2 separate regions of the Homo sapiens genome follow, and region 2 is linked to region 1. Evidence: fine-mapped expression QTL. A gene starts in region 1. The other region holds a variant in brackets. All regions are shown on one strand. Distances are between the middles of the regions.

Evidence for each region. PIP is the estimated chance that this variant, and not a neighbour inherited with it, causes the effect.
Region 2: its variant is the best candidate, but not a certain one, in a credible set for the expression of MDN1 in whole blood (TOPMed, PIP 0.54).

Annotation. Positions count from the first base shown.
Region 1 is chr6:89,817,992-89,822,383 of GRCh38, forward strand. MDN1 (midasin AAA ATPase 1) reads right to left here and starts at 1,803. Exons shown (of 102, transcript NM_014611.3): 1 at 1,515-1,803. The coding sequence starts at 1,616. RefSeq lists enhancers at 1-260, 261-880, 1,457-1,846, 1,501-2,120, 2,121-2,740.
Region 2 is chr6:89,782,806-89,787,197 of GRCh38, forward strand. It overlaps MDN1 (midasin AAA ATPase 1), which reads right to left. Exons shown (of 102, transcript NM_014611.3): 9 at 2,207-2,321. Among named protein-coding and RNA genes, the nearest start is that of MDN1, 35 kb to the right of the region's middle. The variant A/G (reference allele first, on the strand shown) is at 2,178.

The sequences.
Region 1 (4,392 bases):
CCCAGAACAATTGGGCTTGAGATACATCAAAAAAAATACTTCAGGGCAGGGCGCTGTGGCTCATGCCTGTAATCCCAGCACTTTAGGAGGCCAAGGCGGGTGGATCACCTGAGATCAGGGGTTTGAGACCAGCCTGACCCACACAGTGAAACCCTGTCTCTACTAAAAATACAAAATATTAGCCAGGCATGGTGGCGCACGCCTGTAATCCCAGTTACTCGGGAGGTTGAGACAGAAGAATCGCTTGAACTCGAGAGGCGGAGGTTGCAGTGAGCTGAGAGGGTGGGCCATTGCACTCCAGTCTGGACGACAGAGCGTGCCTCCGTCTCAAAAAAAAAAAAAAAAAAAAAAAAAAATTTAGGCCGGACACGGTGGCTCACTCCTACAATCCCTGCACTTTGGGAGGCCAAGGCGGGATGATCACTTGAGCCCAGGGGTTCCAGACCAGTCGGGGCAACAAAGGGGGACCTTACAACTACAAAAAAAAAATTTTTTTTTTAATTAGCCACACCTGGGACCCAAGTACCTGGGACCACACTCACCTGTCCCGTGGCTCACGCCTGTAATCCCAGCACTTTGGGAGGCTGAGGCGGGTGGATCACGAGGTCAAGAGATCGAGACCATCCTGGCCAACATGGTGAAACCCCGTCTCTACTAAAAATACAAAAAGTAGCTAGGCATGGTGGCGCTCGCCTGTAATCCCAGCTACTGAGAGGGTGAGGCAGGAGAATCGCCTGAACCCGGGAGGCGGAGGGTGCAGTAAGCCGAGATCGCGCCACTGCACTCCAGCCTGGCGACACAGCGAGACTCCGTCTCAAAAAAAAAAAAAAAGTGTCTTCAACTCAGATAGAAGGAGTCAATGAGAAGGTTCTTAAAAGCCCGAAGACCTATTTCCCAGAAAACTCTAATTAACCTTATAATTTGTATAGTTAGTTACAGTGAGTATGAGCTGTCTTGCTCTGTACTTCAGCTGTTGTAAGTGTTTACGAACTGTCTCCAAAAACAGATGCAAATTTCCCTCATGGCAGAGATCGTAACGAATTTATCTATCCACTTTCTCACAGCGCCACACCGTTCCTTACGCACAGCAGGAATGCAATCAGTATTTGTCGATGGTTCCCCAAACTAACAGGAGTGGCTGCACTACGCACACTTAGGTGATACGTACACTTGTCAAAACGGCAGAAACGCAACCTCAATTTCAGAAAAACAAACCACATTCCTTTGGGAAGGCCACCTCTGCCACAAGCAGCCAAAGCGCTTGCATAGGGGTGAGAGGCGATGGGAAGGGTACTGGAAGGCTCCCCCAGATAAAAACAAAAGACTCCTTCCAATCGCCTCAAACACGCTCGGAAACCTCCACGACCTGCGCCAGCCCACAGGAGGGGGCCAGCTTGACCTGAGGCTGCACCACTCCCCACTTAAAGCGGCGAGTATCGGCGGGGGAGCGCAGGAAGCTTACTAGTGGGGCGACCCAGTCGTTCCGGCGCTTTCCCTCTCCCTTCACGTCTTACCTGCTTGGCCAAGAACCTGCCCAACTCACTGCGGCTCTTCTCGTTCTTGGCTGCGATTAACCGCAGCGGCGCGGCTGCCACCTCCAGCAAGAAGTGCTCCATGACCCAGGGCCCTCACCCCGAGCGGCCACCTGCGCTCCCTACTTCGCGGCCAGCGTCCCCAAGCCGCCGAGGTCCCAGTGCCCGAGCAGCCAGCAACTACGCCCGCAGGAAAGGCGTCCTCAGCTCCAGCGCCTACACCGGGAGAGGGGCACCACACGTGGGTGAGCACACGGCGTTTGACGTCATCAGCTCGGGACGGCTACGCTGCGCCCTCCCGGCCTCAGCCCCTCAGCGGCGGAAACGCCAGTCTTCGCTGTCCCGCCTTTTCCGGGAGGGAAATGGAAACAAAAATCTAGTCGGTTTGGATGCAGGAGTGATGGGGACTCGCGAACACAGCACGTGGTGGGACAGAAAGAAGAGTGCGTTAGGCCGGGGAGGAAAGAGGGGGCGTGTGAGTCTCAGCCCACCGTGCCTTGCTTCTGCCTTAACACACGGAAAGATCAGATGTGAGAGAAAAGCTGATTCTCGGCCGGGCGCGGTGGCGCATGTCTTTATCCCAGCATTTTGGGAGGCCGAGGAGGGCAGATCACTTGAGGTTAGCAGTTCGAGACCAGCCTGGGCAACATGGTGAAACCCCCTTCTCTACTAAAAATACAAAAATTAGCCGGGCGTGGTGGCGCGCGCCTGTAGTCCCAGCTACTCGGGAGGCTGAGGCAGGAGAATCGCTTGAACCCGGGAGACGGAGGTTACAGTAAGCCGAGATCGTGCAGCTGCACTCCAGCCGCGCGACACAGCAGACTTTTACTGTCTCAAAAAAAGAAAGAAAAGCTGATTCTCCCCTTCTTGTTAGCGGTGGCAGTTACCCCCTGTATAGGTAGGGGTCAGCAGTAACCTTAGTTCTTGCCTCCTCAGAAGAAATAATTCCACGAAGGGCATAAGGCAGGATAGACCTAGACAAGTTTCAGAATAGAAGTAAAAGTTTATCAAAAAGCTTTAGAACGGGACGGAAAGAAAAGGAGGAAAGTACAACTTGGAAGACTGCCAAGCAGGCGACTTGAGAAACCAAGTGCGCAGCTTGACCTGTTGACTTGAAGTTTTATATGTTGGCATACTTTGGGGAACTTGCATTGCTTCTCCCCACTCCTGAGATCTTACTGGGAAGCTACTGATCAGTTTCAGGTGTTTTCTATTAGGAGACTGCCTTTCGCTGGCCCCGGTGAACGTTAGAGAAACAGTTAAGAACCGCCTGACCATCGTTTGATTGTCACCCAATAGTCCTGGTATGTGTGGGGTGGGGAGCGCTCTCCTGTTCTGCTCATACCTAACTAGTTAACATTCTGCCCCAGCAATTCCCCTTGTAGGACTCTAGCCTGCGGAAATCCTCACTAAGTGTGACAAAGACACCCCTTGCAGTTTTCTTAATACAGATATTGGAAGAAAATGTTCAATTGGGAATATTAAACTATGGGGTGTAAGTTATAGCATATTCTGGAAGTCATAAAAAATAGTAGAGTCCATAACATTAAAAGTGCACTTGTGGGCTGGGCGCAGTGGCTCAAGGCAAGGCAGGCAGATCACGAGATAAGGAGTTGGAGACCAGTCTGGCCAACATGGTGAAACCCTGTCTCTACTAAAAATACAAAAATTAGGGCTGGGTGCCTTGGCTCACGCCTGTAATCCCAGCACTTTGGGAGGCCGAGGCGGGCAGATCACCTGAGGTCAGCAGTTTGAGACCAGCCTGACCAACATGGTAAAACCCTGTCTCTACTAAAAATACAAAAATTAGCCAGGTGTGGTGGTGCATGCCTGTAATCCCAGCTACTCAGGAGGCTGAAGCAGGAGAATCGCTTGAACTCAGGAGACGGAGGTTGTGGTGAGCCGAGATCGTGGGATTGCACTCCAGCCTAGGCAACAAGAGCGAAACTCCGTCTTTTTTTTTTTTTTTTAAGTGGGGCCAGGCGTGGTGGCTCACGCCTGTAATCCCAGCACTTTGGGAGGCCAAGGCGGGCAGATCACCCGAGGTCGGGAGTTTGAGACCAGTCTGGCCAACATGGTGAAACCTTGTCTCTACTAAAAATACAAAAAGCTGGGCATAGTGGTGGGCGCCTGTAATCCCACCTACTCAGGAGGCTGAGGCAGGAGAATAGCTCGAGCCCGGGAGGCGGAGGTTGCAGTGAGCGGACATCGTGCCAGTGCACTCCAGCCTGGGCGACAAGAGCGAAACTCTGTCTCAAAAAAAAGAAAAAGACAAAAAAAAAAATGTAGTTATGTAGTGATAATGCACCCTGGCAACTATTCTCAGGAATCTGTTGAAAGAGATGCGCCCTGAAAAAGGAGGATAAAACCAAGAAAGAAGACGACACGGGATCCAGGAAATAAGAGATTTAGCACAGAAAGAAAAAGTAAAATAACCCTGTCGATCGTAATCCTAATCCACGGGATTATTTTACTTTTAAGTGTTTAAAGTTAAGGGAAATCCCGGAACTTTCATCTGGGCAGCAGCAGGAAGATGAACAGCTCTAGGGTGATTAAATTAATAGAACAGGTTAGTGGTTGCCTGAGTTTGGGATTAGAAGAGAAGACAATGTAAACAGCCAGGAGGCAAAATTTGGGGGTAATAAAAATCTAAGACTGGGCAGGGCACAGTGGCTCAAGCCTGTAATCTCAGCACTTTGGGAGGCTGAGTCGGGTGGATCACAAGGTCAGGAGTTCAAGACCAGCCTGGCCAAGATGGTGAAACCCCATCTCTACTAAAAATACAAAAATTGGCCGGGCACGGTGGCTCACACCTGTAATCCCAGCACTTTGGCAGGCCAAGGCGGGCAGATCACCTGAG
Region 2 (4,392 bases), 35 kb before region 1:
GCATGTTGCGGGAAGTCAGGGACCCCAAATGGAGGGACCAGCTGGAGCCACGGCAGAGGAAAATAAATTGCGAAGATTTCATGGACATGTATCAGTTCCCAAATAATACTTTTATAATTTCTTATGCCTGTCTTTAATCTCTTAATCCTGTTATCTTCATAAGCTGAGGATGTACGTCACCTCAGGACCACTGTGACAACTGTGTTAACTGTACAAATTGATCATAAAACATGTGTGTTTGAACAATATGAAATCAGTGCACCTTGAAAAAGAACAGAATAACAGCGATTTTTAGGGAACAAGGACAGACAACCATAAGGTCTGACTGCCTGCAGGGTCAGGCAAAAAGAGCCATATTTTTCTTCTTGCAGAGAGAGCCTATCAACAGATGTGCAAGTAGGGAAGATATTGCCAAATTCTTTTCCTAGCAAGGAATATTAATATTAATACCCCGGGAAAGGAATGCATTCCCGGGGGGGAGGTCTATAAATGGCCGCTCTGGGAATGCCTGTCTTATGCGGTTAAGATAAGGACCGAGATACACCCTGGTCTCCTGCAGTACCCTCAGGCTTACTAGGGTGGGGAAAAAACTCCGCCCTGGTAAATTTGTGGTCAGACCGGTCTGTTGTTTAAGATGTTTATCAAGACAATACGTGCACCGCTGAACATAGAGCCTTATCAGTAGTTCTGCTTTTGCCCTTTGCCTTGTGATCTTTGTTGGACCCTTATCAGTAGTTCTGCTTTATGCCTTTTGCCTTGTGATCTTTGATAAACCCTTATTAGTAGTTCTGCTTTTTGCCCTTTGAAGCATGTGATCTTTGTACCCACTCCCTGTTCTTACACCCCCTCCCCTTTTGAAACCCTTAAAAAACTTGCTGGTTTGAAGCTCAGGTGGGCATCACGGTCCTACCAATATGTGATGCCACCCCAGACAGCCCAGCTGTAAAATTCCTCTCTTTGTACTCTTTCTCTTTATTTCTCAGCCAGCCAACACTTATGGAAAATAGAAAGAACCTATGTTGTAATATTGGGGGTGGGTTACCCCAATAGTGGCATGCACCAGCTACTCGGGAGGCTGAGGCAGGAGAATCGCTTGAATATGGGAGGCGGAGGTTGCAGCGAGCCAAGATCGTGCCACAGAGTACTGTTCTGGGCGACATAAAAAGACTCCATCTCAAAAAAAAAAAAAAGAAAAGAAAATGTAGGAAAAAATATTTGAAGTTTGTGGCCAGGCACAGTGGCTCACACCTATAATGCCAACACTTTAGGAGGCCAAGGCAGGCAGGTCACCTGAGGTCAGGTGTTTTGAGACCAGCCTGGTCAACATGGTGAAACCCCATCTCTACTAAAAATACAAAAAAAATAGCCAAAAGTGGTGGTGGGCACCTGTAATCCCAGGTACTTGGGAGGCTAAGGCATGAGAATTGCTTGAACCAGGAGGCAGAGATTGCAGTGAGCCAAGATCACGCCATTGCACTCCAGCCTGGGCAACAAGAGCGAAACTGTTTAAAAAAAAATAAAATAAAATAAAAATAAAAGATTGAAGTTTGTTTGGTGTCACATATTTACCTATATACCTACATCAATAAAGGGAAAAGCATCTCTTCCATGTCTGAATGACCACTGACAATGCTTTGTCTGCCACTCTCCTAGATAAAGCACTGGGGAAGGGAAATCTTCCAAGTGAGACATAAAAGGGAAGTGGGGCATGAACGGAGTCAAGTGTAATATACTTCTTACTGATCTAGGATAACCACAATACTAGAAACTGAATCAATGTAGAAAACCTATAAAGTGATTTACCTCAATTCTCATTAATGCCTAGATCAAAATGTCCATTAAGTGTGAAAGACATTACTTCAAATCAACTTAGTAAAATGATCCTCTGTAGACAACTGGGAAAATTTGAATATAATCTAAGAATTCAATGATACTGAGGAATTACTGTTCATTTTATTGTGTATAATAATGTTATTGTGGTTATATATGAAAATGCCATTAAATTTTAAGAGATGTATGCTGGGAGTTTGCTTTCAAATATATTAGCCCAGAAAAAATAACAGATGAAGCAAATACAGTAAAATACTAGCACACAGACTGCAAAATTTAGGTTGATGAGGGTTCTGGTGGTTTATTATACTATTTCCTATTTCACGCGGGAGCCACTGCACCTGGCC[A/G]GCATTGATACTTTCCAAGACCCACGTACCTCATTCAGTTCTCTCTTATCCAGGTTATCCAGGTGAATTTTGGTCCAATATTTGTCTAGCAAAGTAGCATGACTGTTTAGCGGTCGATACCAATTTCCTCCACAGCTCAAGAGTCTACGTTTCAAAATAAAAAACACAGTCACACAAAATTCCAAATTTTAATCCTGAATTGTGCCTCTGGATATTACTTGCTGTACACTGTCTCACATAGGAAAAATATTCATAATCCCTTCTGTTTCCAGATACTACACTGTTGGGCTTACAGGGCAGATGACAAATGAAAGGCTGACAGTTAACCCATGTTTGGCTCTTCTCCTAAGTAGTAGTGATAGTGCTTTAACCAAATATTTTCAAATCACTGCAAATAATTCTACAAGGTAAATGTTTTTATTTCAATGACAGGTTCCTCTTCCTTAAGGCATAAATAACTTCAGGAAAGAGAAAGCATAATCCAAGGCTCATAGCATTAACATTAAGTTCACTGCTTGTTACCAGAAGCTACAGTACTTGAAAACCATTAAAAATTTCCAGAAGAGAAAAAAGTAGAGAAGGAATATACATTAAACATACACTCTGGGGAAGGTACATGCTTATGCATAGGCCACTTAGTCCTCACAACTGTCCCGAGAGGAAGATGCCATTCTTTTCTTCTGACATAAATGGAAGAGAAGGAAAGAATGGCCCTTATACACTCAACTGTGACTGAAAATGGCAGAACTGAAAATTGAATTCAAGTTTATCAGATCACAAGTTTGTCTAACATCTTTCCACGATGTCCCAGGTCTTTCTGGGAAGTGTTTGAATCTACCAGGGAAGAACTTCACTATCTCTATAAATAAAATCAAGGTCAGCCAGGCTCAGTGGCTCATGTCGGTCGTTGGGAGGCCAAAGCAGGAAGATCGCTTGAGCCCAGGAGTTCAAGACCAGCCTGGGCAACAAATTGAGGCCTCATCTCTAAAAAAACATAAAATAAGACAGGTGTGGTGGCTCACACCTCCCAGCACTTTGGGAGGCTGAGGCAGGTGGATTGCTTGAGGCCAGAAGTTCAAGACCAGCCTGGGCAACATGGCAAAACCCCATCTCTATTAGAAACACAAAAATTAGACAGGCGTGGTGCGTGCCTGTAGTCCCAGATACCTGGGAGACTGAGGCACGAGAATCGCTTGAACCCGGGAGGCAGAGGTTGCAGTGAGCCAAATCATGCCACTGCACTCCAGCTTGGATGACAGAGTGAGACTCGGTCTCAAAAAAAATTAATTAAATAAAATAAAAAATCAAGGTCTATCAAAACTAACAGTGCCAGGTACAGTGGCTCATGCCTGTCATTCCAACACTTAGGAGGCCACAGTGGGAGGACTGCTCGAGTCCAGGAGTTCAAGACCAACCTGGGCAATGCAGCAAGATTCCATCTCTAAAATAATAATAATAATAAAAAAAATTTGTTTTTAGCCAGGCATGGTGGTGTACCCCTGTAGTCCTAGCTACTCAAGAGGCTGAGGCAGGAGGATCACTTGAGCCCAGGAGTTTGTGGTTACAGTAAGCTACGATCAAGCCACTGCATTCCAGCCTGGGTACAAAGCAAAACACTGTCTCTAAAAAATAAATAAATGTTTAAAACAAAAGTAACAGGATTGGGCCGGGCACGGTGGCTCACGCCTGTAATCCCAGCACATCAGGAGGCCAAGGCGGAGGATCATGAGGTCAGGAGATCAAGACCAGCCTGGCCAACATGGTGAAACCCCGTCTCTACTAAAAATACAAAAATTAGCCCGTGTGGTGGCAGGTGCCTGTAATCCCAGCTACCTGGCAGGCTGAGGTAGGAGAATCGCTTGAACCCAGGAGGTGGAGGTTGCAGTGAGCCAAGATCACACCACTGCACTCCAGCCTGGGTGACAGAATGAGACTCCATCTCAAAAAAAAAAAAAAAAAAAAAAAGTAACAGGGTCAGCTGGGCACAGTGGCATGTGCCTGTAGTCTCAGCTACTTGGGAGGCTGTGCTGGGAAGACTGCTTGAGTACAGAAGTTCAAGACCAGCTTGGGCAACACAGTGAGACCCCATTTCAAGAAAAAAAAAAAAAGAGTAATTGGGTCTAGGGAGGTATTCCTTGAATACTATCGGGTTAGCTCCACACTCCATGCAGAAGTCAATGTTAACTGAGGTAAACACTAATATAATCATTAACTA